Linked DNA regions of Homo sapiens: region 2 is linked to region 1. Evidence: fine-mapped QTL for protein levels in blood plasma. A gene starts in region 1. The other region holds a variant in brackets. All regions are shown on one strand. Distances are between the middles of the regions.

Region 1 (17,013 bases):
AATTCTTTTACATTAACTTTTAGGTACATAGATAAATAAATTGAGAGATATCCATTTTACTTATAAGAAGACACTTTTCCTTAATTAATGAAATTAACTGATGGAACTTTTAAAAGTACTACACAATGGTAAATATTAATAGTTTTCTATACTATGCAAATTTGGCCTCTTCCTTACTAACAAAATACAAATTCTGTTCAGGGTTGCAATACAGCAGACTAAAAACACCTTCACTTTTTAGTTTCCTTTCATGGCCATGTACCTCCAGATTCCTTATGTAAGAAAAATAAAACCCATGCTGTCTCAAGCTAATGAGTTGGTTTTCTGTTGCTTTTGTATAAGCCAGATTCTAATGGATGGATATATTATTAGGTTTTTTTTTTTTTTAAAAAAATGACATTTCATCTGGAAAAATAAAAAGGCCCAAAGTCAAGAAACAACAGATGTTGGCGAAATTGCAGAGAAAAAGGAATACTTACACTGTTGGTGGAAGTTTAAATTAGTTCAACCATTGTGGAAGACAGTGTGGTGATTCCTCAAAGATCTAGAGGCAGAAATACCATTCGACCCACCAATCCCATTACTGTGTTTATACCCAAAAGAATATGAATTATTCTATTATAAAGATACATGCATGTGTATGTTCATTGCAACACTATTCACAGTAGCAAAGACATAGAATCAACCCAAATGCCCATCAATAATAGACTGGATAAAGAAAATGTGGTATATATATACCATGGAGCACTATGCAGCCATAAAAAGGAATGAGATCACATCATTTGTAGGGACATAAATGGAACTGGACACCATTATTCTTAGCAAACTAATGCAGGAACAGAAAATCAAATTGCATGGTCTCACTTATAAGTGGGAGCTGAGCAATGAGAACACATGAACATGAACACATTGTGGGGGAACAACACACACTGGGGCCTTTTGCGGGAGCAGGGGAAGGGGGAGCATCTGGAAGAATAGTTAATGGGTGCTGGGCTTAATACCTAGGTGATGAGTTGATCTGTGCCGCAAACCACTATGGCACACGTTTACCTATGTAACAAACATGGACATACTGCGCACGTACCCTGGAAATTAAAGGCTGAAGGAAAAAAGTTCATATTATTTGGTTACAAAAAAATAAAAGAAAACCTCAACATAAAACATGAAGATCCAAATATAGTGTGATATATAAAAAAGAAAATATACAGTAATAGAACACAAAATGGAGTCAACAAATTCATATTTTATAGCATGAAAGTATATAAAGAAGGGAGAATAATGATTAAATTAAGCATATAAAGGTATTTATACCTTTTAGTAACTTTAGTAATTTATAATTATTAAATTCTCTATTTCAAACTAGAGAGGGAAAATAATCACATACTATTATTTAAAAAAAAAAACTATAATAGAAGAAAAATACTTTAAGATTTAACTGAAATGGAATGGAATAATTTTTCAGAATATATAAATCATATAAATGAACGTTCAAAGAGAATTTTTAAATAATAAGTATACAATTATTAGAAAAAGATAATATCAAATGTGGTTGGGAGTATACAATATGGGGATTTATTCATTCAATAATTATTTAATGAACACCAGAGTTGCACTGTTAGGGCTGAGCACTAGTGGATTATGAACTGGACATGGTCCTTCTTCTCATTTTAAAATCCATAACTATGGGGAAAAAGACAAAACTAATAATGAACATACAAATAAACTTAAAATTCAAAATTTTCTAAGGGCTACGGTGAGGAGTCAAGAGTCAACAGGTTCAATAAATAGTATAGATATATTACAAATGTATTACCTCTCCATATATAGCAACTATCCAAATATTATATTCATCCAAGCAAATGCATATACCTTGGTAAACAAAATAAAAATTAGTATGTACTTAAAATGTATTAAAAACACATCATGCCATTCCACATGTCGATGTTTTCTCTCAACGTTTTGGTATTGATGTTTATTCTTTTTTTTTTGAGACCGAGTCTCGCTCTGTCGCCCAGGTTGGAGTGCAGTGGCGTGATCTCGGCTCACTGCAAGCTCCGCCTCCGGGGTTCACGCCATTCTCCTGCCTCAGCCTCCGGAGTAGCTGGGACTACAGGCGCCCGCCACCACGCCCGGCTAATTTTTTTGTATTTTTAGTAGAGACAGGGTTTCACCATGTTAGCCAGGATGGTCTCGATCTCCTGACCTCATGATCCGCCCGCCTCGGTCTCCCAAAGTGCTGGGATTACAGGCGTGAGCCACCAAGCCCGGCCTATCTTTATTCTTGATTATTACATGCTATTCTACTCTAGGACCATAAAAATTTGTCTAGTCATAATCTGGTCCTTCCTAGTATCTTTATATTATTAAAAAATTATAAAAATCTAGACTTTTTGCATGACTTTTGTGTATAGGTGCATGAGTTTCATTAGTGTATATGCCTAGAATTTTGATTTTAGGGTTGATATATTCAATAATATTTTTAAAAATTTATACCAACATAAAATTCAGTAACATGTTTTCACATTCCTAGTTCCCTTCTGGGCTAATACTGAGCAATAGCAGACATACAATTTGGACAACTTCTGTTTGTGTGAATTGGCATCTAATTGTTTTTTAATTTTCATATCATCAGTGATTAGAAAAATTGAGATTTTTTCATGTTGATTGGCCACTAGGCTTTCCATTTCGTGAATTGCTTGTTCAGATCTTTTTATCATTTTTTTCTTTGAGTTGTCTTCTTATTTTTAATTTCTAGTTCTTTCTATATTCTGAGTATAGTTCTTTATTGGTTATATGCATCTTTCTGTCTTTGTGTATTTTTTAACTTTTTAAGCTTTTCTTGGTAATTTTAGAATTTTAATTATTCCAATTAAATGTTTCTCTATAATGGCCTTTTGTGTCTTATTTAGAAAAATTGCCTTTACCTGAATTCCACTGAGGTAGTCTCATGGTTTTCTTAATTTTAACATTTTGTTTTTCATACATAGGTCTCAAATTCATGCAGAAATATTTTTGTGTATGGTTTATAGTTAAAGTAGAAATTTAATCAAAATGCTTTCTATATGATGAACACTTGTTTCATTTCACTTATTACATAGGTCATGTTCTAATATCCCTCTAATATACCATATAATATATCCTTATATACAACTGAGGATACAGAATCTCTATTCTCTTCTACAAGGTTATCACTATCCAAATGCAATATATCCAAATGCTATGTAATTTTAATCATCAAAGTGCATTATTAAATATATCTAATGAGACAAATTAATTTCTATTTACTTTTCTTCTCTAAAACTATATTGGCTATTTTGAGCTCATTACTTTTCATAACTTTTCAAGTGAGTTTTCAAGTTCGTTAAAAATTTTGAAGGGAATTTATTTGGAATTGTGTAACAAATAGAGACTGAACATCTTACAGGACTGAGATTTCCCATGTGTGAACAAGACATAGTTTTCTATTTGGGGTAGAAGAGGTCATCTGTTGATGTATTTAATAAAAACGTAAAATATTTATCATACAGAGCTTATATTTTGTTATAATTATTCCCAGATTTTTGATAGGAATATTTCAAAGAACTCGGTTCTGCTTTTGCTGCTCCCATTGTCGTTCCCCCCATCTTCTATTTTATTAATTTCTGTTCTCATTACTACAATTTCTAATGTTATATTGTCTCTTGGTTTTCTTTATCATTCTTTTCTTTAGCTCTTGCATGGGATTCTTCACTGTTTACAATTTTGTTTCTATTCCAACAAGCATTTACATCTATCAATTTTCTTTTAATAATAATATCTATTCAGTTGCAAGTTACAATGGGTTTATATGTAGTGCTTTTGTTATACATTATTTTGTAATATCAATTTGATTCTTCTTTTTAAATCCAGAAATAGTTTATAAATGGTTTTCAATATGTATACTTCTGTGTTTTACAAAGTTGTGAAAATCATAAAATATCTATAGGATAAGAGATGGAGTAGGTGATAAATGGAACTTTTGGCAATCTCATAACAAGATTTCTGTGCATTACTCCATGTGATTTTTTTCCCCAAAACTTAATTAAATAGGCAAGACAGAAATGCATATTCTCGCTTGAGATCTCGTATTAGTCACGGTTCTCCAGAGAAAGAGGACTAATAGGATATATAGAGATGGAGAAGATGTGATTTGTTATGGAAACTGGTTTTCACGGTTATGGAGGCTAATTCCCACAATATGCTATCTGCATGCTAGACAGCCAGGAAAGCTGTTGGTGTAATTCAGTCCAAATCTGAAGGCCAGAGATCCAGAAGAACTGATCAGTGTTGGAATTTCCAGTCCAAGGTCGAAGGCTCGACAATTGAGTGGGGATGACATATGTCCAAGAATCAAGAACTAGGAGCAGAAGGTGAGCAGAGGATGGGCAGAAGATGGATGTCCCAGCTCAAGAAGAGAGAGCAAATTCATTCTTTCTCTCCCTTCTTGTTCTCTAGGTGAGGCCTCAAGGGATTAGATGACACTTGCCCATACTGGTGAGAGCTACTCAGTCTACTGATTCAAATGCTGATCTCTTCTGGACAGACCAAGAAAAAAAAAGTTTTCCCAGTTATTAGGGCATTCATTTACTCAGTTAAGTTGACACAATCATCACAGAGCTTTTCATGCCTTTTCTGTGACTACTGATTTAAATTTACAAAGTTAATGTAGACATAGTTTTAACAATTTGTCCATAAAAATCAGTTAGATATGGTTGTCTATTTGCAGAAGAATACTTTGTGAGGCCTGCAAATAAGTTGTCCCTTCCAGTTATGTTTCTGGGGATTTGTAACACTAATCTATATGTTTTATGTCACGTTGATCATTTAAACGGAGCCAAAAATCTGACTTCAGAACAATGATGATACAGAAAAGGGCTAAAGTACCATTAATTGGGTTTAAGGAGGAAGTCAGAAATAAAACAATTACTTGGAGGCAGTAAATTATACTGTTGTTTTTTCATGGCCAGCAAAATAAGCTTCTATGTATTTAGAAATACACCCTGAGTAAATCTCTTTTTTATGGTAAAATCATGCTGTGAATATAATCACCAAATATGAGCAGACTGAAAAACAATGTTAAGATACAGGTTGTACTAAGACATATCAAGATTAATTATTATTTGCCTAATTATATTTAGTAATTGCAGTCATATACTAGCAATACAGTGTTTAGCTAAATATCAGATTATTTGGCATTACATTGGTGATCCAGTTCCAAAACAAAGGTGAATCTCAGCACTTCACAATTTCTGCATTGTAGCTTTTGACTCCCCCCAAGAAATAAGATGTAAATTTTGGCATTTACAAAGCTATTCTGAAGTAATAAAATACAGTTACAAAAAAAAAAAAAAACAGAAAGATATCTGGGAATATTGCAAAGATGATAAAGGGAAAAAAGACTGAAGACAAACACTGAGGTAGAGAAAAAAGTCTGAGAAGACAGCACCAGATGACCCTGGTTTTGAAGGTGAGACCCCGCTGTGGAGGGTGCCACTGGATGCTCTTCTTTAACTCTCATCTCAGAAATGACTACATGGCTCCAAAATGTGATCTTATGATAATCAAATTTATTTTATAAGAAGTTTATTTTTACTTGAACATATTATATGCAAATTAGGAAACTTTTCAAATTACAGAAATGAAGAAATCATATAAAGTAGTACAATTTTCTACCTCAGAAACATAATAGCATAACAATTTTATTTTCTTAATTAACATATTTAATATTCAGCCACTTTATTAAATGAGACTGTACCATTTTTTCCCTTGAAGCCCAACTCTGGATACTTTTGTATCCACTGTCTCTGTAGTACATGTACACACACACACACACACACACACAGATACACAGAAACACACAAAAACTCACATACACATCTGCTCCAGAACTTTTAAAAAACAGTGTTGGTTTCTCCTAACAAGTTTGAAGATTCTCAGGAGAGATTTACACTTCACCACAAATATCATTCTAGAAGTCTTTATTATGCTTCTACCTCCCCAAAACTTCTACTCTTTAGAGTGGTTTCCCAAATTGCTCCTTTTTCTTTAATTTGTTATCTTTAGTCTTCTTCTCAATTTGTTTACTCCATTTCCCCTTAAAATCTCATTGCCTCAGTTTCTTCAAACTCCAACTTCTCTTTTCTTTTTATTCTATTTTTTGTTTGTTTGTTTTTGAGACGGAGTCTCGCTCTGTCGTCCAGGCAGGAGTGCAGTGGTGCGATCTCGGCTCACTGCAAGCTTCGCCTTCCAGGTCCACGTCATTCTCCTGCCTCAGCCTCCAGAGCAGCTGGGACTACAGGCACCCGCCACCATGCCCGGCTAATTTTTTGTATTTTTAGTAGAGACGGGGTTTCACTGTGTTAGCCAGGATGGTCTCGATCTCCTGACCTCGTAATCTGCCCGCCTCGGCCTCCCAAAGTGCTGGCTTTTTATTATTCTTAACTTGCTTTGACATGAAGTTTATATCATTTCAATAATGAAAATTTGGCAGCTCCTTCTCTTCCTGATTTTCTTAAATATAAGGCAAAATAAAAATAAATTGTTTCCATAATTTTGTATAAATATCTCTGCCAAATCGTCTCAGCATAAAGTCATTTAATTTCTATTCTTCCAAATCTGTGTGTGTGTGTGTGCGTGTGTCTGTCTGTCTGTCTGTCTGTATACACGCATACCACAATGGGATTATATTTTTCATAATGTTCTGCAGGCCACTTCTTCAAGAATTTTCACCTCAGTAAATTTTTTCTAAGCTAGTACCACCAAATTATTTAAATTTCCAAAATTTATCCCCCAAAAAACCCATTTCTGGTCATGAACCACATACTACATGTGATTATGTCTCTTGCATTTTGCCCAGGCTTTCATAGAACTTTACTTTCATTGTTTTGTTGAAATGACCAAGCCAGAATGTTCCACTTTCAGGAATTGGCTGGGTGCTCCATTGAGATACAATTTGTTTCTTTCATTTATTTTCTTTATTTCATATAAATATAAAGTTGAATTCATATCTTCAATGTGATAATAAAAGACTCAAATTAAAATTTTTAGATAGACTTGGTGATATTGTTTACCTAACATTTTATTGATTCTGCTATTTGTGACATTAAAATTTACCCTTTGCTTTAGTTATAAAATTTGGATTGAAATATGTGTGGTTTCTCAAGAATATCACCTATCCAGTTTTCCTTCAATCATACATCTAGTGATCTTAACACCAATTGTTAATTCTTAACTGAATGAGTATATTCATCAAGGTATGAAAATTTTTTTCTGCTGTGTTATTCCTTCTACATATATTAGTTGTCTTTCTTCTTTAAATTAGAGTTGTTCCATAATAACAGGGCTTTTCCTCACAAATAGTCTTGTATTCTATTACCAGATTGTTGATTGAATTCACTTATTATATTTACAGCCAGAGAAAAGGGAATGTTCGTAGATCTTACCAGAGTGTTAAGGGATAAAGGACATTGGTACTACAAATAACTGAAATAATTCAGAAAAAATAATTTGTAAATGCACATATTTTATCTCATGTATAAAGGAAGACATAACTGAAAATGGCTTAAAATATTAACACATGGTGAATCTGAGTAAATATTATATAGAAGTTGTCTGCACTAATTTGAAAATTTCCATAAATTTAAAATTGTACAGAAATAAAAAGTTACTTTTAAACACCTGAAATATGGGTGGTAACAGTTATAAGCAAATAAACTAAAAATAGTACATTTTTATCAAATGAAATGACAAAAGATATGTAATAATAAATTGCGTTTTTGAGCATGAGAACAACATACACTTTCCTAGACAGCTGGTGAGAGTATAAATTGCTGATGTTTTGTGAAGGTAGTTGGTTGATATGTCTTAGCCATAAAAGCATAGATAACCTTTTGAAGAATTCTGATTTAAGCAATTATTCCATAGAAAATAAGAAATATTTAAAAATATTTATAATTACTAAGTCCATTTTTATGTTACTATTTCCAGGAAAAATTTAAAATAGCCTTCATATACAATAAAAGCAAGTTAGATAAATTATATTGTACTTATACAAATAATTAATACATAGGCATATAAATGAAGTTAAAAAAATATTCGATAGCATTATTTTGGAAAAACTTAAGATAGGTTATATGAAAGTAGGCTACCAAAGACTATGTATGATGTATTTCCAAATTAGCTTGAAGCAAAAGGTACAGTTGTGCATGAGAATAAGCAATTAAAAAAAAGAAAAAGCATATATATATATATGGTAGCACAAAAATGTCCTTAGTATCCAAGCTCCAGGACTTTGCCTCTTAGTGTGTAGTTTGTGAACTCCCTCTATCAGCTTCACAGAGGACAGTAGTATAACGCTGTCCTCAAGTCTACTGAAACCAAAGCCCAGGGATGTGGCCTAGAAATCTGGATGTTTAAATAGCACTTTGATGAATTTGATAATGTGTTACTTTGCAATTTTTCTGAGAGTGAGACTCCAAAGATAGTCAAGGGTTTGGGAAGAGTAAATTTAAGCCAATTCAGTAAATTAGGTGATAAACAAAGAAGCTTGCTGTTTTTCTCTCTTTTTTTATGTTTTAAAACAATGAGTTTCTCCTTTTTTGCTCAAGCCCTGAACAATTTAGTTCAGAATTTGTTTTCTTACTTTGATTCTGCTGGCTTTGCCAATTCCATGAAAATCCACTTGGCACCACATTTCCTTAGAAGCTCTTGCTTTTTCTTGATTTTCTTTCTGTTCTTAGAGTCTAATATTCTAGTGTCTCACCAAATTGTTGTTGTCTCTTTCCAAAACTCCTTTAACCAAACTATCTGTATCTTCATGTAAAAGGCACCACAGACCTCCCATCACTCACTCTCCCTTAACCCCAAAATATCTATGTGTTATCCCTTACAGATGTCACTTCCTGCAAGGCCTTCCATATTAGTTGCTACAACATCACTAAAGAATTTTATTACCTGTGGCTCTGGACCTACTTCTAATATCTCTGGAGATATCCACCTTCAAACACCTGCCACATCCAGCTATGAGGGTCTAGTACCTGGGCTCCAGAGACATGTTCAGGTTAGTTCTGATTATAAGAACATTTCTCTTTTTTGCCAGAATTGTTGGAAAGTTATCTCTATTCAACAGTCTGTGTAGGATTTCAGAAGATTGAATATACATATAAATATATATACATACACACATGTATATATACACACACACATATATGTATATGTACTTTGTCCATGTCGTATTTGGTTATTCCAATTCTGGGAAAATAAATTAAGAAAATAATTAAAAGATGCACTCAAATATCGATATACAAAATGCCTATTGTAATAATACATAAAAAAAGTCAGAAGCTAACCTCGGTATCTGTATGATTTGGAGCAAGTTACTTAAACTCTTTGTGGCTATATTTTCTCAAATGTAAAATAAGGTTAATAATAGTGCTTATTTTAAAGGTAGTCATGAGTTTTAAATGAATTCATGTATTCAAAGTGGATAGAATAGTGCTTTCAAATAATATTTATTACCTAAAATTATTATTATCATCATATAAGTAACAAGAGATACAATGAACCATAATATGCCCATATGATAATATATCACACAGTAATCAAAATATTTTAATAGGAAATTAATATCATAAGATAAAAAGCAAGAAGAATGATGATAAGCCATTTGACTACCACTATATTTATCTATGTAACTATAACCACATACACATATTTTAAAAAATTGATTGGAATATACAAAATGGTCTTTTCATTCTCTGTGATATGTAAAATGTAGAAATATACTTTTCTGGGCTGGATGCAGTAGCTCACACCTATAATCCCAGCACTTTGGGAGGCCGAGGTTGGTGGAGCACCTGAGGTCAGGAATTCGAGACCAGCCTGGCCAACATAGTGAAATCCTGTGTCTACTAAAAATACAAAAATTAGCCAGATTTGGTGGTGGGTGCCTGTAATCCCAGCTACTCAGGAGGCTGAGGCAGGAAAATTGCTTGAACCCAGGAGGCAGAGGTTGCAGTGAGCCGAGATCCTGCCACTGCACTCCAGCCTGGGCGACAGAGTGAGACTCCATCTCAGGAAAAAAAAAAAAAAATCTATCTATCTATCTATCTATCTATCTATCTATCTATCTATCTATCTATCTATACTTATATATACTTTTCTTTGTTATCCATATTCATTTCAGAGAATGCAGTGCTATTGTAAAAAAAATGAATAAAATTAATATAAGTTTAGAGCACTTTTTTGGCATCAGTATGCCTAAGGAAAACTAATGTATAATACAGGATTAATGTTTTTCACACCATCTCAAATCTTACTGAATGCTGCTATCTAGAAAACAGTGGTAACTGAGTTACAATGGGACCTTAAAAGCAAAAAACCACTGTGACTGGCTAACTGAAAGTGATCATAGAGCCAAAACCATAATGATTGTCCTGCCCAAGCTTCAGCATATATGGTTGCAAAATGTGCGCAGTGTTAATGCCGTGTCAAGTGTCTTGTGGTATTTCATCAGTGTCGCTTACAAGGCATACTCAACATTTAACAGCAGGATCATTAACCATCCATGCTGTGATGTAATGGAATAGTGCTTCCCTACTAACCCTGAAACAAGCTCACTGTGTGTGACCTACATCCTTCCGCTGGATGAGTGTGAGAAAATGATGACACCACAGAAGCAAAGCAGCTGCTGTAAGTTGAGCCACAAGGAAGAAACTCTCAAGACAGGAAGAATAAATGCTTTAGAGGTGCACTAAAATAATGAATGAACTAATGTGGCATAGCTGTGAAATCATGCGAGGAAAAGAACTACAGGGACAGTAACAGAAGGTGGTTCTTTGAAGTAAAGACATTGAGAAGAAGAAAAATTGCCAACTTGTGTAATCAGTTGATGTTGCTAGTTAGCCAGTTTAAACATGCGTTAAAGATAAAGATCTGCTTGAAACCAATTATTTTATTGTTTGGCTTCCTGTTTAAAGATGAAAATGAAATATGTGTATATATGTGACATATTTTACCTAGCAGTGAGTAGATGCAGGAAGCATGTAAAATGCTTTGCTGAATTCACTAACGTCACAAAATATTCCTTAATAATTGCCGCGTTTGATAGGCTGACCTTATGCTAGCACAGGAAACAATGCAGTGGACTTGGGTTGGAGAGAAGAATTTTGACATTTGGATTTTTAAAAATCATGTATATTGAACCCATGAACTCTCATGTGGAACATCAGATTTACTATATTTTAAACAGAAATGCCATCACTATAAAAACCATTGCAAATTTGTCAATATACTTCCATTTAAAAAGCCTTTTCCTGCTTTTATTGATTTATTGATTAATTTTTTTTTGAGACAGGATCTCACTCTGTCACCCACGATGAAGTGCAGTGGCACAATCGTGGCTTGCAGCCTCGACCTCCTAGGCTCAGGTGATACTCTTACCTCAGCTACCTCCCAAGTAACTGGGAATGTAGGCTTGCACCACCATGTCTGACCCATTTTCTTGCAGAAATTGAGTTTTGCTATGTTGTCCAGACTTGTCTTGAACTCCCAGACTGAAGCAATCCGCCCACTTAGGCCTCCTAAAATGTTGGGATTACAGTCATGAACCACTGTGCTCCACCTCCTTTTTCTCCTTTTCAGATAGATTATGTATTCTGTACCTTTTGTGTAACTAACTTGTTATTACATAAACTATATTCTAAATACATTATAAATTATTGTGATCATGATATTTATCATTGAATTAACACTGCCTAAGTAGCAATTTTCACAGAAAAGATAATTTTAAAAGACCAAAATGGTTATTCTCTTGGAAGCAGTTGACATAAAATAACAGAATAATACAGATTAAAATTCTGTTTTCCAACAGCTACTAGTGGTAAGAAATATAGTAAGCTTCTGATTTGTAGAAACCTTAGCTTTCTCATCTGATGAGGTGGTTAATAATATTAACTCTCATATTTGCTGAAATAATATAAAATATTTAATATAAATTGTCAATTATAATGACTGGCATAAGGTAGAATTACAACAAATGCTAATTATATTTGCTTGTTTGAAAATTTAACACTCTATTAAAAGGCAAAAAAGTGCTCACCTGCAAATATTAATACATGCCTTCTGTTTAGTCCATAGAAAGCCCACAAGTAAGAGATTCAAAAGTGAAAGCTATCACTTACAGAAGATTAAGAATATATTGCATTGAGAAGATAGGGATTAAGGAGTTTATCAAAGGTTTTTTAAAAAATTATTTTCCTGAACATCATTTCAAGAAAGATAAGCGCCAAAGACATAAATATATTCTCCAGAGCATGTGCACTGCAAGTTGACAAATGTGTCTCTTTTATAGAGTTTGGTGAAGGTTATTCATTTTATTTTTCCTGTCTTGACCAGAAAATTGTGGCTTCTCATCATGTATGACTGCCTGCAGGGTCTTCTGAATAGGAAATTACCAATGCTGAAATTTGTATGACTTAAATAAGTGTTGAAGTGTGGGGGTTGAAAGGAGATACATATCAGAGACATCCATTCAGTTAATAGAACTAAGTTTTTGATTTGCATAGCTTATATCTAGAGCATTGTGTTTCTTATTTTCTATATTACTATCTTCTCTAACTATATAATTAGCACAGATTGAAGCTATAATGGATTTCAATAATAGCACTACTTTAGAATGATGTATACGTCTTTAAATCTTAAGACAAGCATAGGAAATATGTATATTCTTAAAAAAAGGAAAATTTTTTTAAAGTTTAGAGTTAAAAGAAACATGCATTTTCTGTTACATTTCAGATTATTTTAGTTAAAGAATCTTCTATGCTTTTTTTCTTCATTCTTAGAAGACTACCTGCAATTGTAAAGCATGAATCCTGTAATACTTCTGTAAATGAATCACTATTGCATTTATACCATTAGCCTCTGAACAGATTTCAAGTTGCTGCTGCCAACTCTCGCGAGCTTTGTCAGTAACAGTTGATTGTTACATTCAGTAACACTGAATGTCAGTGCAGTCCAATTTACAGGCTGGAGCAGCAGCTGCATCCTGCATTTCCCCGAAGTATTACATGATTTTCACTCCTTGCAAACTTTGCCATCTTTGTTGCAGAGAATCGGGTAAGTTGCTCTGAATTTACACCTTCGTGTAGAGATCCAAGTTACTGTAAAGCTCATTCTGTGGGATGAGAGTGATCTCTTCATGTGTTTGTTGTGTCCCTTTGGTGCTCTGTGGGGAACAGTTACTGAAGCTTGCAAATGGGACAGAGGAAGTGAGCCAGCAGGCACATGCATCAAATCTTCCTATTATTCAGGGAACGCAGACTTTGTTTATTTAACTGCTGAGAAAATAATGAATTTATTCAACTCTGTATAAAGGACCATAGCACGTGTGGAATCACTGTGATATATATTCTTAGTGAGTTTCCTAAGAAAAAACATTTCATACTGGCTTACCCTTAAATGCATTGTTTATTGAATCTCTCTGTAAAAGTAATCTTTGATTAGTCTTCCTTTTTTTTTCTTTTTAAATGGGATAAAGTTAGTAGTTAACTTACTTTTTCCTGAACAAAATACTTTTCTCAATCAACATTTTGTCACCTAAAACTTTAACAGTAACAACTGGCAAATGAGAGGTCTGTTTATTTTATGTAAATAAAAACAAAACCTGTTTTCTAATTTGATTTACAGTGATTTATGAGCGTGTCCCCTTTGCCCTTTGTGTTCACTTTTTATATGTTTGTTTAAATTGTAGCAAAATATTTTACATTTGCTATTATTTTACTATTATAGAAATAGTAAGCAAATGTACTTTCTGCTCATCCTATAATCTTGTAAAACTATTATTTTGATAACATCAGTTCCACTTTAACCAGGGAATTAAATATTAAGGATTATAAAATCTATGAATGACTAAAAGTAAACTGAAATGTGATTTCATTGTTTATGATTTCTATTTATTATATATTTTTATTTTATGAGTATGTCTTCTACATTTTTATGAATATATTTCATGATAATAAACTCAATTAGGAGCTCCTGTCACTAGTCTGTGTAATGCCTTCCTTAATATAAACTATCTCATAGTTACAATAAATACAATGACAGTTTACTTATATAAGTAGTTACTTTGTTTAAGGATAAGCGTGAGCTTTTAAAGTGTGACTTTAACATTTGAATAAAAATCTTCAGAATTTTCTCTGGATATAAAATAAAGTAGTCTTTTGGATGCCAAATAAATTTCTAATTGGGTTATCAAAGTTCTGTTTTGTTCTCCTAATTTTTTGTTGTTGTTGTTTGTTTGTATTGTCCTAGTTTTTTAATTGTAAAAATATGTTTGGGATGTATTCCATATTTCATTTTTATAAAACATAAGCTACTAATAGCTAAACAAGTCACATCTTATCTATAAATTTGGTTCCTTCTTCGAGTCATTTCTTGATAAGTATAATATATATTTACATTGAATATTATCTTCATTTCGATGGTTTCTTGCCAGCATCTGCTCATTCTTACCAAAATTAGACGGTCCCAGATGTTAAGAGAATTGTAATTGAATAGATAGCAACCTAAGAGGAGATTTAATTTTCAGAGAAGACTCAAGAAATCTCTCTAATAAATGTTCAAATTATTCACACAATGAAGTTTGCAAATGTTCTTCCTAATTGAGGACAGATAAAACATCTTAAGTTTCTTATATCTAATGTAGTGTCTTCTATATGTATACATGCCTAAAGCATAGCTGAAGAATCCCTGAAAGACAGTGATGTAGTCTATTTATAATCAGACTTCCTCAATTCCCCACTTCACTTAGTCTGCAACAAAACAAGCTTTTTAAGTTTGATATAAAGACGTCGTTGTTCCAATTTCTTCAAATACATTTAAGAGAGCTTGTTCTAGATCATATTAATATTATCTAGATGGCTCTTTCTCTACCATTTTAAGAGGGTTTATTTCCAAGTAGAAATAAATATTTATTTAATTGTAACTTTTTAAAAGATAGGGAAATTATACACAGGGAAAATATTTTGAATATTTGCTTGAACATCTTTTAAAAATTCTTGGCTTGTCCCTTATTTTGAAAATCTGGTTGATATTCAAGTATCCCAAAAAATAGCTCTTTATACAAATTATTTTATCACACTCACATCTTATAGTATAACATTTAGTATTTTTTGTTAAAATCAGCTAGGGAATATTAATAGTACTTTCAAAATTGAATTAAAAATACAAAAAAAGATTTGTCACCTTTTTTATTTGAAAGTTATTGTTATAACAGTTTAGCATTTTCAAAAATTGCCAGTAAATTTTCTTAATTCCAAACAAAAACTCAGTTCCTCAAAAACTCAAATTCCTCAAAAACTCAATTCCTCAAAAACTAGAATGGTCTGAATTCCAAACAAAAACTCCTGTCTTTATTTCCAATATTAAATACTATTTTGATAAGCAAATTGATCTAAATTCAGATACACAGCTGTATTTGTGAAAATGTGCCCCATTTTTATGATAATGTTTATGCTACTATGTTCTCTCAGAATCATGTGAGACAGTATCCAATTGCACCAGAATTTATTAAAAGAAAAACGATCAAACCTGCACGTTGTGCACATGTACCCTAAAACTTAAAGTATAATAATAATAAAATTAAAAAAAAGAAAAACGATAATGTTTTGTTGAATATCCTAATCATTAATAAAAATTTTGAGATATAGACTCAATATTTTTATTCTATTTTCATTTATTTCTCTTTCGATTGCTCAATTACATGATAAACATATCAAAATTTTTAAAGTCTTTTAATGGCAAAACTACAGAGTAGCATGTTAGAATAGATAATACCAGATTATAAAAAGGGCAAAGTGATGCTTATTTAAAAAATAAAGTACTGCAATTAAATATAAAAACATTAGCCTACAATACACTAACAGTATATGAACATCTGCATATTTTTATATTAAAGTACACATTAAATAATATGTCATATGACACTCTGCAACAATACATATGAGTTAGCATTATATTGTCATTTTTGCAATGAATGCATGCTTACAAGAATTGCTTTGATTGTTACCAATTACATTATTTGCAAGTTGATAACTCAGATATCATTATCGAAAAATTAAAGATTTTAATTCATACCATATTATTATATAACAAGACCTACTCAGCATAAAATATAAATATCAACATATAATAAATTTTGTATTAAATCAAGTTAAGTGACATGGGAAGATATTACAACCATTTAGATGTTATAGCAACTGTTTAACATAAACAATGAAACATCACATTTCATAATTACACAAAACACAAATACAGTTTTGTAGCAACTATAGTACTTGCTTTGCAATAATATAAACTGTTTGTAGAACAAGTTTGAAAACTATCAGAGACCAAAATTTATTTCAATTTGGTGTTTGGTTTCTAAAGACAAACTAATATTCAAATAAAATCAAGGAAAAAATAGATGGCTTTTGCATTAGACTTAGAAGAACATTGACTGAGCTAGGCAAGAGGGAGAATGGGTACAACCAGGGATGATGCAATTAATTTATTAAATTGCAGCTTAGAACGAACCGCCCAATCAGCTTTGCACCTTATTCACTTTTTCTTCCCAGAGGATGTTTTCAAAACAGAAAATAAAAAAAATCATACTAGCACTTTGTTTTTCTCCAGATGCTCTCCTGCATTTATTAAAGAGAAAAGGATTAGCGGTTATCAGAAAGAAAAAAGAACTGAAGCAGTAGAGTGCCTCTAAAACTTTGATTATGTCTGAAATGTTATTAGTGTCAGGTAACAGGAAACTTTAAGTCATTGTTATATTTTACTTATTTATTTACTGTGATTTATGATACAGTCATACAATACATAATGATGCTTCAATCAATAATGGTGGTCTTATACAATTATAATATAGTATTTTCACTGTACCTTTTCTCTGTTTACATACACATACAGTTACCATTTTCTAACAATTGCCTACAGTATTCAGGAACATGTTAT
Region 2 (17,013 bases), 120 kb after region 1:
CTAAAACCCAAGTTTAAGGTGTTCTACTTCTCCAATGCATCTACTGTCTCTTAATTTTGCAGTAATGTTTTTATCAATGCGATTTTAAGGGTGAATTCTAAATTTTGAAGATAAATGACTTTTACAGTGTGATTTTCTAAATTGTGCTTCTGATCCTTACATTTTATATAAAGAAAGCATATTCCACAGGTTTATCGCCTTGATTAACAAAGAAGCTAATTAAAAAAAAAACATTAAATCAAAGCTCATGAGAATATTCATAGAAAAATGTTTGCTCTATCGTGATAATAAATAAATTACCTCAAATCTTCACCCTTGCCTTGGCCATATAATACTTATCATGTCTTTCCTTGTCCCTTGACTTTGGACTTGAACATGTGATTGTTCTGGTGAATTCAATGCAGATGGAAGTAACAGTGTGCTTATGGCTTAATAAAACTCATATGTTTCTTTTATTCTTTCTTATCTTCCTACCATCATCTTGAGAAGCGATTCTGGGTTCTCCAGAGAAACAGAAACTAAAGAGTCTCTCGCTCTCTCTCTCTCTCTCTCTCTCCCTGTCCCTCTCTCTCTCTCTCTCTCTCTCTCTCTGTGTGTGTGTGTGTGTGTGTGTGTGCATGTGTGGAGAGAGAGAGAGAGATGAATAGAGAAACAGAAAAAGAGAAAGACAAAGTGAGAAATAGAGATTTATTATAAGGAATTGGCTTACATGGTTATGGAGGGTGAGAATTCCCAAGATCTGCAGTTGGCAAGCTGGAGATCCAGGAGAGTTGATCATGTCTTTCCAGTCTGAAAGCCAGCAGGCCCGAGACCAAAGAAGAATCAATGTTTCCATTTTAGTTCAATGGTAGAAAAAGACAATTGTCAGCTCAAGGCGGGCAGGCAAGAGGAGTTCCCTCTTACTTGTGAGAGAATCAGCCTTCATGTTCTAATCAGGCCTTCAACTAATTGGATGAGACCCACACATGTTAAGGAGGGTACTCCACTGTAATTGGTTTATGCATTTAAATGTTAGTGTTCTCCAAAAATACCCTCACAGACACACTCACAATGTTTGACCAAATAGTTGTGCATCCCATGGCCCAGAAGTGGTTGACACATAAAATTAACCATCATGACTAGATAGCTACTACCTCCCCAGAATGACCTAAAGTAGACCCGTTCCAGTTAAGCCCAACCAGACCCACAACTTGAAGCAGAACCACTATCCAAGCATAGCCTGTATAAGTAGACTCTCTGGGAATCCACAGATTTCATGTGAATAAATAATTTGTTTGCTAAGATAATGAGTTTTGGGTGGTTGATGATGTAACAATGATAGACTATATAACTAATCCTTACCTACTAGGTAACTGAACAACCATTGTTATGAGACAACCACATACAGTCATAGTAATATATTTCATTTAAAGGTCACTACTCTTATCTAAATATGCTTCCTTATTTTGAGCCTTCACCAGATTTGCTATATTAGAATCTATAAATGCATAGTTTTAGGTGGGATACTAATCTGAGTGTAAATGTCAGTGTATATCCCACAGGTGACTGCAAGTAGTGTCTTAAAATGGTAAACAAAGTAAACTACTAAAGGAATTATTTTTTTCATTTTGCATGGGACATGTCTGTGTAAGCATTTATCCTCTGTACTTGGGGTTTTTAATATAATTTCCTCCTTAATTTATGTTAACTTAACCAATTTTCTGTTCTCATACTTGTCATCACTTAATGTCTTTCCAATAAGTGTGTTATGACATCCACTTTCTAGTCTTGAGGAATCCTGATCTGTCACAAGTGCACTTCTAAAAATATCATTTTCAACTTCTCTAATTTCTACTGCACTAACTCTGAAGTCTAAGGATATGTATTCTTTGTGTTTCCAACACAGAACATTCATTTTCTTGAAGAACATATGATGTTATTTGAATGCTACTTGGAGATTTTTTCATAAATTGAAACAAATTTTCTCTTGAATGCATTACACCTCATCTCCACCAAAGACAGTTCAAATTCTTAAAAATAAAGTCAAATCTAGAGACCATTACGTCAAATGTTGAAACCAGATTAGACAGCTAGATACGAATGCCGTGCCCACTAATATGGAGCCACATGATACTCGAGAAATGCCTTATATCTATTTGTTTCTTTGACTTAATGCCAAGCATACAGGTTTCTTGTGATGATTAAATGAGACAATATATGTGGCAGATAATTTAGATTTGGTAAGTTATGTACCATGATATGTATTCTTTCTATTTGAATTATAGAACACCCTGTTCGTATGTTGAGAGGCTACTCAGTGTCAGCTTACTTGTGCTCTCACAAGAGAAGTGTTTAGTACTAAAAATGTCAAGTGAGCCTTCACCAGATTTGCTGTATTAGAAACTATAAATGCATTGTTTTAGGTGGGATACTAATCTGAGTGTAAATGTCAGTGTATATCCCACAGGTGACTGCAAGCAGTGTCTTAAAATGATAACCTAAATAAACTACTAAAGGAATTATTTTTTCATTTTAACTTTTAATAAGAATTACAATAAAAATGAGAATAAATTGCAGTGTGAGGAGACTATAGTGTGTACATATATAAATATCCTAAATAAATGATTCTGACAAGTAGATGATCATTTTTAAGTTTATAATTATTAGAACTCTAGTCCAATTGAGAAATGGCTGGTAATAGTACAGTATTAAAATTTTCTAATCTCCCCAAAAAGATCTACAAAATAAATATCTATTATAAATGATTTTAGTAGTTTATTCTGCTAAGTGCTAGGGATAAAAAGTTTTATATATAATAATTGTATTGTACATAATAAAAACAGCATTATGGAGAAATCACTGTTCCTGGCAGTTTGCTACCCACTTTACATAACAATTAATTTAAAATTCACACGTTTGTTAAGACAGCTATTGTTGTTATCGCCATTTTACAAGCAGAAAATATAGTGCTAAGAATTTGTCACTTGTGTAAAGTCATAAAGCTAGATAAAGACAGAACCAGTGTAAAATAATAGATGCAGCCTATTTACATTCATAGCCAAATCTTAGACCTTAACATTGCCCTACTATCTTTCACAGTTGAAACACAGACCAAGTATTCCACATTCAGATAAAAAAATCCTGATTTTTTTAGCGGTCTCAACCGTTCATATTTCTTTTACACTTCCAAATTCATGCTATTGCACCAGAAAATAGAAAACTCTATACCACTATGCTTCTTGCTACATAAATCCAACATTCCCAAATATTACTTTGTGAAATGCTTGCCACCATCCTTCAACTTATCTCCGGTAAAACCCCTCCTTGTTAAGAAATAGGCATTTATCATCTATTCCAAGCTACTACCAATTTCCTGTTGTCTCTTACTTGAGTACTACTACCACTTTCACCCCAGGAGTAAGAAATGTTTCATAATTCAAGGAATATCACTTTTACCATACATATCCAAAATGAAACTCCTACACGCTTCAAGCAATCCTGATTCTTTTTAATTGGTACTTAGCTCTAAATAACATTAGCTTATATCCACTTTCTCAAAATAGAATACTATATATCATTTTTAACACATCATATTCTCTCATCTTCCATATCCATCAGCAAATTCTTGTGATACTACCTTTTACAGATCTCTAGGATCCACCCTCTTTAATTCCACATTCTCCTCCCTAGAGCAAGCAATGTCAATCATCTATGGGGGCAACGGCAGGGCACATCTACTAACTTGTCCCTCTTTATCAACTCTTGTCCATTTCTACCATGGCAATTGGTTAAAAAAGATTCTAATTAGCCCAAGATCCTTACTTAAAATGCTTAAGTTTTTAATAAAAGAATTTAATAAAATCCGGCATTATTCTATATTACTATTAGTTTATGTGTTCTACCACACTGGTCTTCTTTCAGTCACACAAGTTAACTTCAGCCTTTACCACTGGACCTTTTAAATGTTCCTTCCTCTGTCTTAGATTCATTTTCTCTTCATTTATCTGTTTATTTTCTATTTCTTTGTATCAAAGTTTAATTTCTTCAGGAAATCTTCCCTGATCCTAGTATGTCTTTCCCTTATCTCATGGCACTGTGAGACTTATTTTCACAGATCTTACTCTGCTGTAATGTTATGTTTGTGATTATTTTATTCATGTCTGCCTCAACCGTTAAAGAGCTGTAAGTTCCACAAAAACAGAGATAGTTTTATATATTGAGTCTTGAAAACAGAAAGTTCTTAAAAGAATATTTGCTGATTATTGGATTGACTGATATTGGTGGTAGAAGGTCCTTTATTCCACTCAGATTTCTTCTTTCTACATCCATCTTCTGGGATTATAGCATATTACTTCTTTAATAATTTTGCTTTTGGTTTGAGATTTTTTTTGAAAAACACCACCTTCAGTCCTTAGTAACCTGTAAGTACTTCCTTCACTTAACTCTTTATCAGCAATATCTGTATATGCAGCATACAGCACAGCTTCATTTGTTAGATGTCAATAATATTTTGTTGACCAAATGAATCAATTAATGCATGAAAGTGAAGTTAATGGTAAGTAAAATCACGGAAGTCTTACATGGTGAATATAATTTACTGGGAGGAGCCTACATTGAGGATTTATCCAAAAGTGTAATTGACTGGCAGCAGCAGCCCACCTGGATCAACTGCTGCAAAGATGCCGGCTGCAGCAGGGGAGGCACAGCTGGCAGCATGCTCCATGGATCTGGCAGGAGTCAGAAACAGGTGGAATCTCTGCTCCCTTCCTAGTTGGTGGGGCAGGAGCCCTTCCCTCCCGGGTGCAGCTGCAGCTGCCCAGTTGCCCTGGTGGACCTGGACATCCTTGGGCTCTTGAAGACTGTGAAGCCCCCTTCACTCACGGGCTTGGAAGTGCCTGCTCCCCACGCCTGGCCTCTCCCCACCCCCAGTGCCTACTCTGATTTTGGAGCCAAGTTGAGGCCAAGCGTGGGTGCTGTTGCAACCTGGCAAGGTGTGCTTGCACTTGGGGCAGTGCTGAAATGCCAGCCCCCTCCCACCTCAGCCCCCTCTGGACTTTGATCACCAATGAACATGGGAGGAAGGCCAAGGGGGCCCTGAGGGAAGCTCAGTGTAGGCCTGAATGCACCCCTCAGCACAAACAGCCTGGGTGCCTGGACAACATGATTAATGATGACAGGAGGCAGACAAGAAAAGGGGCAGGTCCCCGGTAAAGCCAGACCTTCAAGCCAGGGATGGCTTGAAATCTGGGGTCCAGGCTGTCAGTTCCAGGTGGAGTCCATGGCTCAGAGTGAGAACTTACGGTGCTTTTTCCAGGCTTGCCCATGGCCACCCATGGACTAATCAGCATGCACTTCCTCCCTTCTGAAGCCCATAAAAACCCTGGAATCAGCTACACTCACAGAGACGTTAGGACTACCAGCTGTGGGAAGGAGCTATCAACTGCAGCAGGTCTTCTCTCTGCTGAGAACTGGACACTCGTTAGGATGACCTGCCTAAGGAAAGGAGCTACTCACTACAAGTCTCCTCTCTGCTGAGAACTGGACACTTATCTGGACGACCTGCCTATGGAAAGGAGTCAGCTACTTCAGGTATCCTAAGAGCTGTTCTGTTGCTCAATGAAGCTCCTCTACTGCCTTGCTTCCCCTCCAGTTGTTCACAGACCTCATTCTTCCTGGACACGGGACAAGAATTTGGGACTTGCTGAATAGCAGGACTGAAAGAGTTGTAACACAAACGGGGCTGAAACATGCCCCACCTCACCATGTTACAGGTGTCAAGAAGGAGAGAAGAACTGCAGCTTTTGGGGATCCTAGACCTAGGGTCTTCCCTAGCCAGGGCTGCAACACCCTCTTTGAGGCTCTGTGGTTCCTGGCATTTCCAAGCTTCTGGGTACCACTGTGTTTCCCGGTGCTAGAAGTGGAAGCCAATTGTGGTACTCGTGGTCCAGCCACAGCCTTGCATGGAGCAGGGGCCTGGAGCTGCCTGCCCTGCTACAGCCAGCATGCCTGGCTGTGTGCAGTGACCAGACCCCACCCTTGCTCACACATCCCTAACTGCTTCACTCCTGGCTCACCCTTGGCAGGCAAGGGATCCGGTCCGGTAGCGTAAACTGAGTGCAGCCTACTGGGCCAAGTGGGTGGAACAAGCCCAGAGGGCCTGAGCAACACTCAAGCAGAAGGCACCACTGGCTACCAAGGTTTCTTGTTGGCAAAGTGACACCCCAAGGATCCCCTGACATTTTTGGAGGTGCTTTTCTGGGATCTTCAGGAGAGTGAGTAAAAGAGGACTTGCTGCTTTCCATCCTTTTTTTTTTTTTTTGGAGTCAATAAACTACACACTAGCCAGAATGAAAGAAAAACATGGGCCTCTGTTCAGCCAACTAAAAGCAACAAGTGTGGTTGCTGGACTTAAGACACAGAGGACAGGCTTGCTGGGGGTACACTGTCAATCACTTGTCACTCTTGGGTCTTGGGAATGTTGGCCTTTTGCCAATCCGGTTTCCCTTCACAAAAATTTAGCTGTCACTTGAGACTGGAAGGAGGTCCTGGGGCAACTGCAGATATCTGACTGAGGCTACACCTTAGTGTTATCCAAAGGCCCCTGGACTAACTCCCATCCCCAACTGCCCATTAGGGTGTCAGCACTAGGGCCCTCAGTCTTTCCTATCACACTTTTTGTCTCATTCTCTCTTTCTTTCTCTCTCTCTTTCTTTCTCTCCCTTCCTTCCTTCCTTCCTGCCTGCCTTTCTTTCTTTCCTTTCCTTTCCTTTCTTTCTTCTCTGACTATAATGGCTACTATTCTCTTTTTTATATACAATGTTAAGGGTACCTCAGAGAAAATATTACTGGCTAGAATAAGCACTTGGAAGCCCGCCATGGTGGCTCACACCTGTAATCTCAGAACTTTGGGAGGCCGAGGTGGGCAGATCACCTGAGGTTAGGAGTTCGAGACCAGTCTGGCCAACATGGTGAAACCCCATGTCTACTAAAAATACAAAAAATGAGCAGGGAATGGTGGCAGGCACCTGCAGTCCCAGCTATTTGGGAGGCTGATGCACAAGAATCGCTTGAACCTGGGAGGTGGAGGTTGCAGTGAGCCAAGATAGCACAACTGCACTCCAGCCTGGGCAATAGAGTGAGACTCCATCTCAAAAAAAAAAAAAAAAAAAAGAAAACAAAAAAGACAGAAAGAAAAAAGAAAAAATAATAAGCGCTTGGCTTAGTGATCAGGAATGTAAATCAGAA[G/C]AATGTAATGTGGTATCTGTCTATTGTTAGAAGCAAGGAGAATGTAACAACTGAGACTTTTCTTTCCCCTGTTGAAGGAAGCCATTTCCATAGGGAAAGAGGCTTTCCCCTGGGCACCTTCCCCTTCCCTGCACTTCAGTTTTTTCTTTTTTATTTTTTTTTTCTTTTTCCTCCACCATGTAAGCAGTCAACATAGTGCATTGGGGGAGCTTTTCTACGCAAGAGATTTTTTTTTTTTTCCTTTTGAGAGACATCTTATTAGGCCCAGTCCTAAATTCCCAGGACTCCCTTTCTTTCCTTGGTTTGAAGGGGACCTCGTTTCACAGTTTTACTTTAGCATTCTGCTTATGATAGGGAAGAAATGAAAGAGTGGCCTCGGCTGCCCCACCAATTACTGGCTGCAATTTGGTAAGGGCTACCTGGGACTTAATTTAATGAGTCCGTACAAAGGGAAAGCTAAACCTGAGGTATCCAGAGGCAGATGAAAGTGCAAGTCAGGAGGCACAGTGCAGGTGAGCATGACTAATTCCTACCATTAGGGCCTTCCACTTCTGGATGGAGGTCATGTTGCATCCATGGCATAGATAAGGTCTAGGGAACTCAAAGGTGACTGACAATGGGAGAATAGGGCAGCATAAAGGTAAGTGCAAATATTCTTATCCACTAGGCCTCCCTGCTACATGGGTGAAAGTGGCATGTGCAAAGGTTGCCGGGACTTAGGGATATAATGTCAAAATAAAGAAGGTGATGTCTTTTTTTTCTCTCCCTCATGTACCCTGTGTATTGGCTTGAAAGAGAAAGGAACAAATGGAAACCATTTCCCCCCTCTTTCCAGATGGGTAATCAACCATTTCAGCCTGCACTCTTTTCGAGTGCTTCCTGAATCCCTGGGACCCCCTTGACCCTCAGACTCTGGAGAGAGGAAAGAATGCCTTTTCCCCCTCTGTCCTCTCTTCCAGAAGGGGAACCAATCATCTTTAGCCTGCACTCTTCTCAAGTGCATCCCGAATCTCTGGAACTCCTTTGACCCTCAGACTCTGGAAAAAGAAAAAAAAAAAGGTTTTTTCTTCCTTTTTTCCTCTTCTGTCTTCTCTTTGAGGATGGGTAATTGCATCTCTACACCACAGGACACTCCCCTCAGATGCATTCCCCAAACTGAGAAGATATTACAAATCTAACTGAGCAATCTCTTGAAGAGGGACAACTTTTACAGTAAGGCTTATCAGTTTTACCTGTGAGGTTAATTTTGTTAAGGCTCAAAAGCCAGCCATATTGGCCATTTGGCATGGCTAAGGCTGGTTAATAAGACATTTAAGAGGACTTTTTAAAAAAGGATTTCTGGCCGGGTGCGGTGGCTCACGCCTATAATTCCAGCACTTTGGGAGGACAAGGTGGGTGGATCACGACGTCAGTTCAAGAGCAGCCTGGCCAAGATGGTGAAACCCCATCTTTACTAAAAATACAAAAATTAGTTGAGCATGGTGGTGGGTGCTTGTAATCTTAGCTACTCAGGAGGCTGAGGCAGAGAACTGCTTAAACTTGGAAGGCGGAGGTTGTAATGAGCTGAGATCATGCCACTGCACTACAGCCTGGGCAACAGAAAAGGACTCCATCTCAAATAAATAAATAAAAAGGATTTATATGGTTAAAAGTCAGCTTAACTAAAAGTGGATATCCAAGCTACAGGCATATCAGGCATATATAAAAGACCTTTATGTCTTTTCTCTCAATGGATCTAGTTTTTCTGGAAAAAGGATTTTTTTTTCCTTTTTAGCCAACTTAATTATTTTTCTCCATTTCATCTTGCCACTCCTAATGCACACATAAGAGGCCCTAAGACAACTTTTGATGGTTTGGAACTCCTTGGGAAGAACAGAAGAGATGCCACTGACCCCATTTTTGTAAAAAAAGAAAAACAAAAACAAAAACAAACAAACAAACAAAAACCTGTTTTTCTCATGGAACCCCAGGAATTAGAGGCAGATAGATCTCAAAATCTGTTTTTGTCTTCCAACTATGCCTGCTTATTAGGCCCTAGATACTGCATGGTTTCATAGCCCTGTTTCTTAAAGGGCTCCACCCTGAGGCCAGTAAATAAAATTAGATGGGCAAATGAAAATCTAACAACTACTGGATCTTCTTTCTCTGTAGTTATGTATGTGTTCTATGTGTGGTGCTTATATAAAAAAAAAGAGCTTTAATTGACTGGTTTAAGGAAAAAATAAGCATTTGCATAAAATATTTTTAAAGAAAAATAAAGCTGTAATGCCTTTTTGTTCACATGACTTTAATCTTTGAGAAATAAAAACAGCTTTAAAGATTATTGGTAAAATAAAAATGTCTTCAAAGTGTAGACATATGGGCTAGTTGCAGTGGCTCACTCCTGTAATGCCAGCACTTTGGGAGGCCGAGGCGGGCAGATCACGAGGTCAGGAGACTGAGACCATCCTGGCTAACACGGTGAAACCCCGTCTCTACTAATATGCAAAAAAAAAAAAAAAAAAAAAAAAAAAAGTAGCCGGGCGTGGTTGTGGGTGCCTGTAGTCCCAGCTACTTAGGAGGCTGAAGCAGGAGAATGGTGTGAACCTGGGAGGTGGAGCTTGCAGTGAGCCAAGATCATGCCACTGCACTCCAGCCTGGGCAACAGAGTGAGACTCTGCCTCAAAAAAAAAAAAAAAAAAAAAGTAGACATATGGTCTACATTATGCAGGTCAGATACTAGGGTTGCTAAAGGCTTTAAGGTCATGAAATGCTTCTTCGGCTTTTGAAAATTGTTTGACTTGCCTTCTTTTCAGCTTGGTAAGGCCTGGGGACATATGAAGTTAACCACACCCCGACTATGTTGGAAAGAGTTAGGCCTTATCTGCACCTAGTACATAATTAAAATAACTTATCATGTTTTACACCAAAATTTAAAAAATTGCTAAGAGTTACCATTTAACATGTATTGAGACTACTGAAAATAGATTTACATGCAAGGTGTTTAAGGTAAGTAAAATGTGTTTTTAATAAAAGATTATAGGAAGACATGTAAATTTTTTCTTACTGTAGAGGGTTAAATAATTATTTTTAATTAAGATAAAGCTAAAGGTTTAAATGAGTTGGGAAGGTTTGTAAAACTTAATATTGTAAAATAAAATCTGTGTGTGAACATACTGACTAAATTCAAAAGGGTATTATTCGATTTTTCCATAAATTGAGCATTGGAATAAAAGCACAAGTGTTTCTTAAGGCACTGATATACTCTTTAACAAAAATTAGTTAAGAGTTATAAAAGGTTTGTAAGAATCTCACCTCATGGTCAAACTGATTAAAATTGGATAGATTTTTCTATAAGTTTTCATTAAAAAATTGGGATTGACATTAAAAGACAAATAAAGGGTGAAATTTGTCTATCTCTCTTGAACAAGATTTTCATGTAATGTTAAGGATATTGAAAAATTTTAGTTTGTTTTGTGAATAAACTACTGAAAAAAGAAGGAAAAGACAAGAGACAGATCGTTTGGAAAGCTGAGTCTGCCCTAGTAATGAGTAAAGGTTTTTGCTTTTCCAAAAAAATGTTGAAGCGGCTGGGCACGGTGGCTCACGCCTGTAATCCCAGCTTTGGGAGGCCTAGGTGGGCGGATCACAAGGTCAGAAGATCAAGACCATCCTGGCTAACACGGTGAAACCCTGTCTCTACTAAAAAATACAAAAAATTAACCGGGCGTAGTGGCAGGTGCCTGTAGTCCCAGCTACTTGGGAAGCTGAAGCACGAGAATGGCGTGAACCTGGGAGGCGGAGCTTGCAGTGAGACGGATCGCGCAACTGCATTCCAGCCTGGGCCACAGAGCAAGACTCCGTCTCAAAAAAAAAAAAAAAAAAAAAAAATGTTGAATCATCATTTTGGCTAAATAAATTACTTATGGTAATCTGGAATTCTTTTTATAATATCAAGTGTTTTAAACCTTTAATGTATTTGATAGGCTTCCCCAAATCAAATTTCAGCTTCATAATTATCTTTTCTGACCCCTAATTTTGGGATGCTACAGAGGGCCCCTGGAGCATTCAAACAAGAGGTAAATAGGATTATTTGACATGTTTAGTTACATGGGATTTTCCAAATAAAAATAAGGTTTAATCTTGTTTAAGTTATATTTTAGTAAACGATAATGTATGTTCCAAAATTGTATGGGATTTCTAAAATTCAAATGTCTGAGTATATGCTAGCAATCATAAATAGCATTATTATGTTAAGTTACCGTAAGCCACAGAAATAACCAAATTTCCTTGTCAATTGTGTTTTTGACTGTGAACTAACCTAAGACATTTTGTCATCCACAGGCAATTGTTGTCTTGTATTTATTCTCTTCAAAGGATAGTTTATAATCAGTTATAGGACTTGGATAGGTTCTCATTGGTTGTTTTGAAGTTTTTCTCTGCATTTTAGATTAACCCTGCTTATTCCTGTGAACTAGCCAACTATCTCTGACTGCAGCTCAGACCAAAAAAAAGGGATAGGTAAAGTAAAAATCTGGATGAACATTCTAATTCTGGGCAATTATCCTGTAAATCCTGCCAAGAGATGGGGGGTAAATGGGGTGCCGATAACCCAAAGGTTTCTTTTTCGGGAAAGTAAACTCAAGGGATTATCTACCCCCCTAAACAGTTATTTCTCTTTTAAACTTTAACTGCCCCCATACAAGATTTAATTTCTTTTACCAGGGTGAAACAGCTCTAGCCACAATATTGTTTTCTGAATGATTAGTCTATTTTACTTCTTATTTCTGTTATCTTTGGCACTAGATTTTTTCCTTCGCATAATTAACCTCCTTGTAAAATTTGTTTCTTCTTGCCTAGAGGCCATCAGACACCAAGTGGTCATGCAACTGGAGCCTCAGATGATGGCTCCCTTTTACCAAGGACCCTTGGATAGGCCTCTGAGAAAGATCTGACTGCGTTTTCCCCAAAACAGTGCCTCCTAGCAGCATGAAGCCGTTAAGCGTGGTCATCATCCCTATCCTAATGGCAGTTTCCTGTACCTCTTCAGAGGGAGGATTGATGGCAGCGCAGCCCACCTGCAGTGGCTGCTGCGAAGACACCATCTGCATTGGGGAAGCAATTGCTGGGGTTGCACACTCCATGGAGCCGGCAAGAGCTGGGAACAGGAGGGGGCCCTGTCCCCTTCTGAGCTGGCAGGGCTGGAGACCCCAGACCCCCACCCAGGTGTGGCTGCAGCCACCCAGCTGTGGCTGTGGATCCATGCATCCCTGCACTCTCAGAGGCCTGGGAATCCAGCTGCCCCCGCAGGCTCAGAAGTTCCTACTCCCACTGCCTGGCCTCTCCTCACTTTCGGTGCCCGATCCAATTTCAGACCAAAGTTGAGGCCCCTCCTGGATGATGTCACAACCCGGACAGGTGTGCATGCACTTGAGGCAGTGCTGGCACACCAGCCCCCTGCTGCCTCAGCCCCATCCGGACTTTCGGTGTGGAGCACAGGAGAGAGGCTGAGTAGGAGCTGAGGCTGACTCAGCACAGGCCTGTAGGCACCTCCTCAACAGCATGGACAACATGATTGATGGCAGCTGGAGGCAGACAGGTTCCTTTGTGAAAAAGAGTGGATCTCCTGTTAAGCCTAACCTTCAAGCCAGGTAAAGAATAGGGCCTGGGCTGTCAGTTCCCTGTGGAGTCAGCAGCCTGGAGTGATAATTTATGGTGACTTATATGGGCCCACCCATGGCTGTCGATGGACCAATCAGCATGCACTTCCTTCCTTCTGAAGCCCATAAAAACCCTGGATTCAACCAGACTCACAGAGATGTCAAGACTACCAGCTTTAGGAAGGAGCTGCCCAGTGTGGTTCTCCTCTCCACTGATAGTTGAACACTCGTCGGGATGACCTGCTTGTGGAAAGGAGCTACCCACTTCACATCTCCTGAGTGCTATTCTGTTGCTCAATGAAGCTCCTCTTTGCTTTGCTCACCCTCCAGTTGTCCATGTACCTCATTCTTCCTGGATGCAGGAAAAGAACTTGGGACCTGCCAAAGAGCAGGGCTGAAAGAGAAAGAGCTGTAACACAAACAGGGCTGAAACACACCTCCTGCTCACCACATTGCAGGTACAAGAAGGAAGAAGCTAGTTGCAGCCCTCTGGGGAGTCCAGACTTAGGGTTCCTTGAGCCAGGGCTGCAACACCATCCTTGGGGCTCTGCAGTTCCTGATATCGCTAAGTTTTGAGGCACCGCCGCATTCTCTGGTGCCCACAGTAGAAGCTGCTTATGGTATGCCTGGTCCAGCTGTAGCGTCTGATGGAACCAGCACCTGTTCCGGCTCTGGGAGCTGCCCACCCTGCTGCAGCTGGCACTCCTGACTGTACACAGTGGCGGGACCCCCGTGCTTGCTCTGTGCCAGGCTTGTCCTTGGCAGGCATGAAATCCAGGCCGATAGTGTGAACTGAGTGCAGCCTGCTGGGCTGAGTGGTAGGATCCAGCCCAGTGGTCCAAGCAGTACTCAGGCAGAAGGCACCAACACCACAGAGGTTTTGGCTGGCAAGGCAACATCCTAAGGATCCTGTGTCATAGGTACATGAAAAAGGTGGGCAGGAAATTTTCATAATATCTTTGACTTCAAAGGTATAACCTCTGTATATCTTTCAAATTACAAATGGGAACCATTCAAAAGTGTTTTACTAAGGGAAATAATTTGATTTTAATCAGTAAATTTGATTAAGAAAAAAGGTTGAATACAAGGAAGACTGAGTGCTATGCCTTCATTTATAACACATTGTTGAGTAAAAGTAGAATCAGGATGAGGAAAGTCATCCTACCACTGTCCAGAGACACAGGAGGTAGGAATAAATTAAAATGAGGCAGTGGGGGCAGGGAGGTTGGGTTATTCAAGCTTGTAGTAAATATTTACTGAGAGTTGACTCTTAACAGGTCATCTCAGATGAGGCCATGTGTTATTTGGAAGTAAGAAGGGCCTTAACTAAGAAACTGAAGAACTAAAATTTAAGAAAAATAAATAGTGATAGTGCTTGAGTCCTTGACAATAAAAGTGGACCAAATATGCAAGAAAAAGTTCAAATGCATGAGAGAAAAGCAAAACATGCTCAAATTAACTTCTCCCCAATTAAACATAAACTAATAGATAATATCAGATATGACATTTAAAACATTTTAAAAAGCAAAACAACATAGACATTGAACTAAAATAATAGATACAGGCCAGTCTATCCATCAGGAGAATATCCACTCTTTATCAGTTCTGGATACAAGATTCTTCTCAATAGATGCCAATTTATATTTAATTATTCAGAAATGCTTGGAATAACTTCAGAGACTATTCTTTGAAAAATAAAATTATTAACATTCAGTGTCTTCTTGATCTAGCCCATGATTCTATTTTTTTCTTCAGCTAGTTGTTTAGTCACCTATTTAGATTTTGAATTTTCAGCAGTTTTTAATAATGCTGACTTTTCATAGCTTTTGCTGCAATTTAAATTACAATTTCCACCAATATTTCTTTTCAGCATTATAATGTGCTTAGTGATATTAAGAAGTATAATTGCTCTTTGGCTGAAAATGCATGGTCCAATAAACATGAAGATGATTTTCTTCTGCCTTCTCAAAAAATAGCTTCTGAACTGGAGCTAACAAATATACCATAGATTTTTAAGAAATACGTTTATATATAACAAAATTATAAGTGTGTATGTGTGTGTATGCATTGATGTCTTTCCAATATGACATATGGTATGTCTTATTTTTTTTTTATTTGCAGACCCAGATTGAGGAATTACATAGATATCTCCATCTCTTTTTTTGCCTTCCCTTCAAAAGAACAAAGCCTTCTGAAATGACTTACTCATGCCACAGATATAATTTTTTTGGAAAAAAATTAAGCTTTTGGATGAAATAGTTGGGTAAAATTATCAAAATGTGAACTCAACTAAATAAAAATTTTAAATTTCTGCTACCTACCGACTCCCCAGATATGTACTATAAAGATATACCTATCCTTCAGGCTTCCAGTCATTCAATAGATATTTCTTGAGCATTTACCGTAAGCCATGTGTTGCTTCAAACATTAGTGACAAACAAAACAGACAAGGTTTCTACCCTGATGTTTACCCATATTGTAGTAAAAGGAAGGCAGTAAACAAACCAATGTATATTTGACTTATGAGAAAATGATAATTATTATGGGTATAAAAGAAAGCTGGATAAGAGCAATATGCTAGCCTGTCTCTAGAATGGCATTGGATGATCTTTGTTTTCTGTTATTCACACTTGTATATGCCATCCCTGACAATACTAGTTTAATACATTCTGTAACAATATTTGAATACAATTTATAGTAAATTGTTACCAATAGAATGCAATAAAAAACAATGGTATATCACTTCTAAGATTAAGTTATAAAAATACTCCAGCTTCTGTCTATGTATATCCTCTCTCTAGGATGACTTGCTCTAGTGAAAGCCAGCTGCCATTACAAATGTACGCTATGGAAGCCTGCAGAGAGGCTCATGTGACAAGAAACTTAAGTCTTCTGCCAACAGCCACTGAGAAACGTAATCCTGCCAATGATCACGTGAGTGAGCTTGGAAGCACATCTACTCCCATTTGGATTTTCAGATAAGACTGCAGTCCCAGTTCATGGTTTGTCTATAAATTCATGAGAGATGTTGTCCCCAACCACCCAGCTAGGTGACTCCTATATTCCTGACCCCAACCACCCAGCTAGGTGACTCCTATATTCCTGACCCCAACCATCCAGCTAGGTGACTCCTATATTCCTGACCCACAGAAACTATGAGCTAATAACTGTTATTCAAGATGCCAGATTTGGGGGTAATTTCTTATACAGTAACAGATAACTAATATGTAGAATACAAAGGGAAATCTTGGGACAGATAATTTTTGCTTGGTTTTATTTTTGTTCTTTGAGATAGCATATTGCACTCTTGCTCAGGCCAGAGTGCAGTGACAAAATCATAGCTCACTGCAACTCTGGACTCCTGGGCTCAAGTGATACTTCCACCTCAGCTTCCCAAGTAGCTGGGACCATTACCCAAAGAAGTTTTTATTTGGTCAATTTTCATGGAGTTTTTTGACTTTGAATCATAAGACTAATCAAAGTTTACCCCTCAAAAATAAGTTTAATATCATTTTATGTAATTTCTCATTAGTCAAATATATGTTTTCTCTTTAAATATTGTTTAATGATTTTTCTGATTAAGAAAGTAATGTATTTTTCTAATGTACAAAGAGTAAATATTACAGAATATTTTAAATTGTATCCACTGCTACAAACAGAGTTGATGACTATTTTAGCAGTTTTTTCCCTATGCTTCTTTTACCATGGTATGCATTAGTTTATGTTATCCCCTAAATAAAAATAAATCATGTTATATATGCATTTGTCAAACTTCCTGTTTTACATATACCTTAAACAGCTCATATAGGCATAACTCATTTTTTTCCAAGCACCCTACCATTCTTAGTTCTATGGATAAGAATTAACTCAAGTGGGTTAATTCATATTATTTGGGTTAATTATAATTATTTTCTATCACAGAAAACATTTTGTAAAATTTTGTGTGTCTTTAACAAAATATAAATCATATTATTTAGAAAATGCTGGACTTGTAAACTGTGTCTTAAAACCCCTGAAAGAATAAATTCAATTTACCAATTTTCTTCAAGATTTAATGGTTATTTATTAAACATTTAATTAGTCAAGTTAAAATGATTTGGTTGTTAAATACAATGCAATGTCTAAGTATTATATCCTCAACTCTGTATTT

Which allele goes with the higher level. Alleles are on the strand shown, and positions count from the first base shown. The strength of an association depends on the size of the effect and on how common the allele is.
For the plasma level of the protein whose gene starts at base 13,022 in region 1, G is the high allele of the variant in region 2 and C is the other (weak association).

Evidence for each region. PIP is the posterior inclusion probability: the model's chance that the variant is causal. Protein levels are from antibody-based Olink assays in UK Biobank. Linkage for the fine-mapping came from a reference panel and not from the study's own genotypes, which makes the PIPs less certain.
Region 2: its variant is fine-mapped to the plasma level of the BCHE protein (UK Biobank, PIP above 0.99).

What each region holds. Positions count from the first base shown.
Region 1 is chr3:165,833,432-165,850,444 of GRCh38, reverse strand. It overlaps BCHE (butyrylcholinesterase), which reads left to right and starts at 13,022. Exons shown (of 4, transcript NM_000055.4): 1 at 13,022-13,131. RefSeq lists an enhancer at 12,910-13,204.
Region 2 is chr3:165,709,071-165,726,083 of GRCh38, reverse strand. No RefSeq gene overlaps it. Among named protein-coding and RNA genes, the nearest start is that of BCHE, 120 kb to the left of the region's middle. RefSeq lists enhancers at 4,355-4,855, 4,856-5,356, 12,248-12,747. The variant G/C (reference allele first, on the strand shown) is at 7,225.